Homo sapiens: one gene and its partner. The protein of the gene in region 2 purifies or fractionates together with the protein of the main gene of each other region. This does not show direct contact. Each region holds a gene or a part of one and is shown on either strand. Other genes may lie near its edges.

Region 1 (3,500 bases), on a different chromosome or scaffold from region 2:
TTCCCCTGAAACAACGAAAAAGAAGCTGTCTGTAGGAGGAAGTGGTGCTCACACCTGCATCCCACCTGCCCAAACTTGAGAGAGAAAATAGAACAACCCCTGATTTTACTGCCAAGTTCCACGCTTGAGCTACAGCCTCATTGCTTTTAATATTAAAAGGTGCAGGCCGGGCATGGTGGCTCATGCCTGTAATCCCAGCATTTTGGGAGGCCGAGGTGGGCGGATCACCTGAGGTCAGGAGTTCGAGACCAGCCTGGCCAACATGGTGAAACCCCGTCTCTGCTAAAAATACAAAAATTAGTCGGGCGTGGTGGCATGTGCCTGTAATCCCAGCTACTTGGGAGGCTGAGGTAGGAGAATTACTTGAACCCAGAAGGCGGAGGTTGCAGTGAGCCCAGATCACGCCACTGCACTCCAGCCTGGGTGACAGACCGAGAGTCCGTCTCAGAAAAACAAAAACAAAAAAAATGGTGTAATTGGGATCCCAGACGATGGCAGCTTTGACACTGCCTTGCCCAAAGGTAGGGGGCAGAACAGGCCCTCAGTTCAAGATCCTCACTTATGCAAGGAGAATGCTGTGTGCTAGTGGTTCCACACTTACCTCTTGCTTTAGCAGTTGCTCAGCCTGACTCCGAGTCATGTGTTTGGAATACCACCTGTGAAGGGAGAGTGCTGCTTGAGTGGCTCCTGGTCATAAGCAGATTGGAGGTTACAGCACCCTCCAGGGCTTGTCCATGTCAGTGATTCAGTCAACTCACTCAAACCCTATTTACTGAGCATCTGTCATGTGCATAGCACACTGTATCCCTTTCCCAAACCCAGGTTGGCATTGAAGATTCATGGAAATGGAGAGTAGCAGGCAAAGGCAAGCAGCAGGGAGTTGCAGGGAAGAGATCAGGGACTAGGGCACTTGAGAACAATCCACTTCCATGATTAGGGAGGAAAGGACAACAGTAGCAGTTTGACATTTTAATTCTTTCATCAGGTCGTCAACTCCTTTTTCTTTGAGTGTGATTCTTCTGGATTTGAGGGCATGGTGACCTCTCCAGCTCTCATAAATGGAGGGTGTTTGGGGGGTAAAGGTAAGACAGATACACTAATTTGAGGTGGTGGCATCATTTGATTCAGATGGTACTAATTTTAATATATATCTTGAAATAAAAAATATGTTGAAAGTAGAAAAAAGTGTATATATATATATACACACTTGTGTATGTATACATAATATACCTATATATACACCAGTGTATGTATACATATGTATACATATATACACTTGTGTGTGTTATATATATATATAAATATATATAAAATATATATAAATAAATAAATATATATATATATAGAGAGAGAGAGTTCCTCCTGGAAGATTGTGGACTGACATAAACATACTTACTCATACATTTCTATGGAGTCTTCTGCTTCAGTGACATAGTTACTAGGAATGTAGCCTTCCTGCCTGTGAAGGAAACAATGTGGCAGTTCATCCAGCACCTCCCCAGCCTCCAGGAGACAGATTCATATGCCCACGTCCCTGAGCTCAGAACAAATCTCAAATGGAGGTATATGTATCATGCACCTCCCTCAAAGACAATCATGTCTCTGATGCATGGTTAGGCAGTGAGCCAGTGAGGTGCAGAGCTTATGCACATGTTGCATTGGTTATATGTGCCCAACAACAGAGGCTCAGAGATGTGGCAGAGGCCATGTATAGGGAGCTGCACGCTGGGAAGTACTTGGAGGGAGAGCATGTTCAGTCTGGTGTGGGAAGAACAGTCTCTGATGAGGATGCTGATCACGGGAATTATGCCGCAGCACTTTTTGCGTGTAGGGAGTGGGCAGGCACCAGGCTCAGGAAGGGCTGGTGTGGACTCACCCATTTTTATCTCGTGCTCTCCACCATGGTAAGTTGCTTTCCTCCAAGATAAAATATTCATCACCCTTCCGCAGCTGTAGATCATTTGCATTCATTGGCATGTAATCATAAAGGGCCACAACCTTTTTCAGCTCACTTGTGGAGACTGGTGCTGCTGCTGGCTCAGGCGGTAGTGGCTTTTTCAAGATCTATGTAGTTAGGAGAAAAGGTAGGAGGGTTTGTCAAGATACCAAGCACTCTTCTCTTCTCTCCCAACTCTCTGGCTTACTCAAGACACCCAAATCAGGCATACTAAAATATTACTCAGCAGTCATTCAACAACCATTTTTAAGCACCAGTGCAGGAGTTCTCAGCCTTGCACACATATAAAGACCATGTATGGAACTTTTAAATTCCAATGTACTTTCGGAGGCCAAGGCGGGCGGATCAGTTGAGGCCAGGAGTTCGAGACCAGCCTGGCCAACGTGACGAAACCCCATCTCTACTAAAAATGCAAAAATCAGCTGGGCATGGTAGTGTGTGCATATAGCCCCAGCTACTCAGGAGGCTGAGGCAGGAGAATAACTTGACCCCAGGAGGCGGAGGTTGTAGTGAGCCAAGACCACGCCACTGCACTCCAGCCTGGGTGACAGAGTGAGACTGTCTCAAAAAAAAACCCACAAAAAACAAAAAACCAATTCCAATACCTAGTCAGTTTCCTCACAGACCAATTACATCAAAATCAAACTCTCAGGAATGGGACCCAAACATTACTATTTTTAAAGCTCACTAGACAAAAACCATTTATAGCTAAGGTCAGGAAACCGGCTTGGCACTAAACTTGTACGTGAATCTACTAAGTGGCTCAGAACCTTGGTTTCCTTCTTTGTAAAATGAGTATAATAATACCTGCTCTACTTACTTACAATATGTGAGAAAGGGCTTTCTAGCCCTCAAGAAGGAACCAAAAAAAAAAAAAAAACTTCTGAAGTGTTAGTGATAGGTGGTGTTAGTGCTAAGTGTTGAGTATGTTGGTATTAAGTGTTAAATTCTTCTAACTTTACTGTATGTTTGAAAATACTTTCCAGCTGGGCACGGTGGCTCACGCCTGTAATCCCAGCACTTTAGGAGGCCGAGGCGGGTTCGAGACCAGCCTGAACAACATGGTGACACCCCCATCTCTACTAAAAATACAAAAATTAGCTGGGCGTGGTGGTGCATGCCTGTAATCCCAGCTACTCAGGAGGCTGAGACAGGAGAATCACTTGAATCTGGGAGGCGGAGGTTGCAGTGAGCCGAGATCATGCCATTACACTCGAACCTGGGCGACAGAGCGAGACTCCGTCTCAAAACAAAAACAAAAGCAAAAACAAAACAACAACAAAAACTTTACATTAAAAAAATCAGGTTTTGTTCTAAACAGGTGATTGGATTACATGGTTGCTGAGAGCCTTCTATCTTTCCATCGAGGAGGAAATCCTAATTAGAAGAACAAATCCCCCATCTTAGCAAGAATACCAATTAACACTGCCAAGTCCCAGGGTAATTCTAAGACTCTAGTGTGTTCTTAGGGCTTGACTATAAGTTTCCATTTAAGCAGTGGCAGCACCCAGTTTCCCTGTATACCTGGTCCTCCTCAGGCGTT
Region 2 (3,500 bases):
GTAAAATCCAATTTATCTCAACTAGTAGAATTTTCAGCACAGGTCTACAATCCCTTACGTAAAACCTTTGGAAAGCCAAATGTTTCAGAATTCAGAAATGTTTAGATTTCACGACAGTAATATGATACGGTATATACAGGATATACCATGCAACACTCTCAGCAGGTTCTGAGGCAGCACTAATAAAAATAGCAATTCTGCAGCAAAACATAAATATTTATAGGAAGCAGGCAAAGAATAAAAAAAAGTATTGGCATAAGTCAGGTTTTGCCACCAAATGAGTTTTTCACAAACTTATAATATTTCAGAGCCTTTTGGATTTCACAATAGTGATTACAGACCTGTACTATTAAGGAGATATTTTGGTGAAAAGGTTTTCTTCCTAAATAAAATCATTCAATTTATTCTATCAGGGAATAGTGAGGAATGTAAGGCCTTAGAAAACACTTTCTCCATTCTCATTCTTACTACTTAATCTTGACCACCTCATTTTCTTAGTTTGGTTTGTTCTAACTTTTTTGGATTTTCCTTTCAAATCTCTAAAGTAAAAGATGCCAACTATAAGTCAAATGACACAATGGTAGTCAGAACAAAAGATAACAAATCCCTCCACAAACCCCGAATCTTCCTCACCTTTGCCCCTCCAACCTTTTAGGCTGGAATCTTTTAGGCTGCCTTGTCTAATGAAGGCAGGGTAACTTCTACTGCTAAGTATCCAGGGTCTCAATATTCACTTTCTCAGCTTAAAAACACATGGCAAAAATTTTTGTAGATATAGATCCTGATTCAGATCTGAGGCACAGAGATCAGATAACTCTATTGTTTAAAGGTCTTCAGCCTGATTCTAATGCTCACCAAAGTTTGAGAATTATAGTCCTTAAGGTAGGCCTACCTGCTGAACTCAACCCCAACACTTCTGGGCCAGGGATGCTCTCCAGCAGAGAAACAAAAACGCCCAGCGCCTAGATTACAGAACTACATCTACTAAATAAGGAAAAATAACAGGGACAAAAACTAAAAGAAAATTCCTAACTGGAATTTTGCTTCCTAATCAAATTTTGGAAGGATGGGAAGAGAGGTGGCCATAAAATATGTTAAATAGTTGCACAGTTGTGCTTCTATTCAAAATAGGTAGAAAAACTGCAATGCTGAAAACACATCTACAAATAATTATGAATTAAGTATGGACTAAAATTTAATTTGGAGACAATTTCAACATTATCAAAAAGTTAATTCAAAGGCGAGTCTAATATTTCATCATCCTCCTAGAGGATCATCTATTCAGTCTGATTTTTTTAAAGCTAATTTTATTGTTAGCATTGATAGCTAACAAATAATTAAGCTTAAGTACTGCTAAAGCAAAATAAAATTTCATACCAATATATGCTTCCAGTTGTGCCTTTCATCTATATATTCATATGAACACAATTATGACAAATTATCTTACAGGACATCCTACACAACAGATTTAATAAACAATCCAGTTTTGTAGTCAATTCTAGAAAAACCAAAATAGTTTGAAATAAGCAAGTTATTTTACCTTTTTCTTTAGCATGAATGTCATCACATATGTGTAGATCTAGATGAGAAATCACTAAATGATGGGAGGTTTCCTTAACATCAAAATCATTGAATAGTTTCACAATTGCATCATTTACATCAGGAGCATTTGAAGTTTGCGTTGTCTTCACTTGCTGGGCAGATGCGACTACTGTAGAGCTCTAAAAAGATTCGAAACTGCCTTATCACTGCCAATTTAAATACTGGAAATTTCACACAAAAATCTAAGTATTTTCAGTCGAAAGTCATGAAAAATAACCATAGTACATCTTATTTTTCATCAATAATATATTTTCCCTAAAATATTTTCTGAATTACCTAAGAATAAAACTAAAATTTAAAAACGGTAAAACTAGGCTCATGCCTGTAATCACAACACTTTGGGAGGCCGAGGCAGGCGAATCATCTGAGGTCAGGAGTTCAAGACCAGCCTCGCTAACATGCTGAAACCCCATTTCTACTAAAAATATAAAAAATTAGCTGGGCGTGGTGCCGCATGCCTGTAATCCCAGCTACTTGGGAGGCTGAGGCAGGAGAATCACTTGAACCCGGGAGACAGAGGCTGCAGTGAGCTGAGACCGTGCCACTGCACTCCAGCCTGGGTAACAGAGCGAGACTCCATCTCAAAAAAACAAAAACAAAAACAAAAAAACAAACAAAAAAACTGTAAAACTATACACAAATCAAATATGAACCCAATATATCTCAGTAAATATCTGAAGTTATATTTAACATATTTATAGCCCTTGTTTTAGAAAATGTAGTTAACTCTTAAAGGCAGTTTATTTGAATATTATATATATTAAAAACAAAACAAATGTGGGCCCTGTATACACTGTTATATATCTGATATGGTTTGGCCCTGTGTCCCCACCCAAATCTCATCTTGAATGGTAGTCCCACAATTCCCACGTGTTGTGGGAGAGACCTGGTGGGAGATAATTCAATCATGGGGGTGGCTTCCCCCATACTGTTCTGGTGGTAGTAAATAAGTCTCACGAGATCTGATGGTTTATCAGGGGTTTCTGCTTTTGCAGCTTCCTCATTGTTTCTTTGACTGCTGCCATCCATGTAAAATGGGACTTGATCCTCCTTGCCTTTCACCACGATTACGAGGCTTCCCCAGCCACATGGAACTGTAAGTAGATTGCCCTGTCTCGGGTATGTCTTTATCAGCAGCGTGAAAAGGGACTAATATGATATCCTATAGAAATAAAGCACATCTTTGTAGAAGCCCCTGTGATATTATTTAGTACTCTAAGTGCTCTGGTGCCTCTCCTAAAAGATGTGGTATGTCCTTTGAACTTGAATAACTAAAGAAGCCAGAAAGGAGACAGGATTTATAAATAGGTTGTGAGTTCAAATATTTTTCTCCCTGAAGAGAAATAGTATAGAACCCTGTTGATATATAAAAATAAATATGAACCTCTAATAGCCTAAAATTATTTTGTATACATAACTATAATGTAAGATTATCTGACATATGAGCCACAAAACTGTAGATGAATTTTTATAATAATTATAAGACCAAATTTTCCACTTTAAAAATTAACAATGTTCAAATTTAGAACAAGTTATTAACTAAAGATAATTAAAGAAAATCAAAGTATATGTATTTTGCATGTATATATATTTACACATATTACATCTATGAAGAACTATGATCATACTGTAAAAGAACTGCAAAGTATACTTAGTAAATGAGAATCTCTTCATGAAAATGATTGCAGCCCAAGGTAAGTAAAGAAACAAAGTGAAATATAGCTGTAAAACGTTAAATACTATAGACTCCAGAAAACTTTTTATTAATTAATTGTTAAACTGATATCAAACACTTTTTCTCCTGCTTTTCCCATTTTCAAAGCTATAACAAGACTGTATTTATGTCTATGATGGTGCTATTTAAAATACTCTCCGGTACTTCTTTCATTATGTTTTCT

What was found.
Region 1: the proteins of BLTP3B (region 2) and BTK purify together in Homo sapiens (co-immunoprecipitation; one large-scale study listed by IntAct). This does not show direct contact.

Annotation. Positions count from the first base shown.
Region 1 is NC_000023.11:101,358,692-101,362,191, forward strand, and holds part of BTK (tyrosine-protein kinase BTK), read right to left. Parts: coding exon 3,482-3,500; intron 2,065-3,481; coding exon 1,877-2,064; intron 1,460-1,876; coding exon 1,397-1,459; intron 657-1,396; coding exon 602-656; intron 6-601; coding exon 1-5. UniProt on the Homo sapiens protein: Non-receptor tyrosine kinase indispensable for B lymphocyte development, differentiation and signaling. Binding of antigen to the B-cell antigen receptor (BCR) triggers signaling that ultimately leads to B-cell activation.
Region 2 is NC_000012.12:100,087,375-100,090,874, forward strand, and holds part of BLTP3B (bridge-like lipid transfer protein family member 3B), read right to left. Parts: intron 1,722-3,500; coding exon 1,541-1,721; intron 1-1,540. UniProt on the Homo sapiens protein: Tube-forming lipid transport protein which mediates the transfer of lipids between membranes at organelle contact sites. Required for retrograde traffic of vesicle clusters in the early endocytic pathway to the Golgi complex.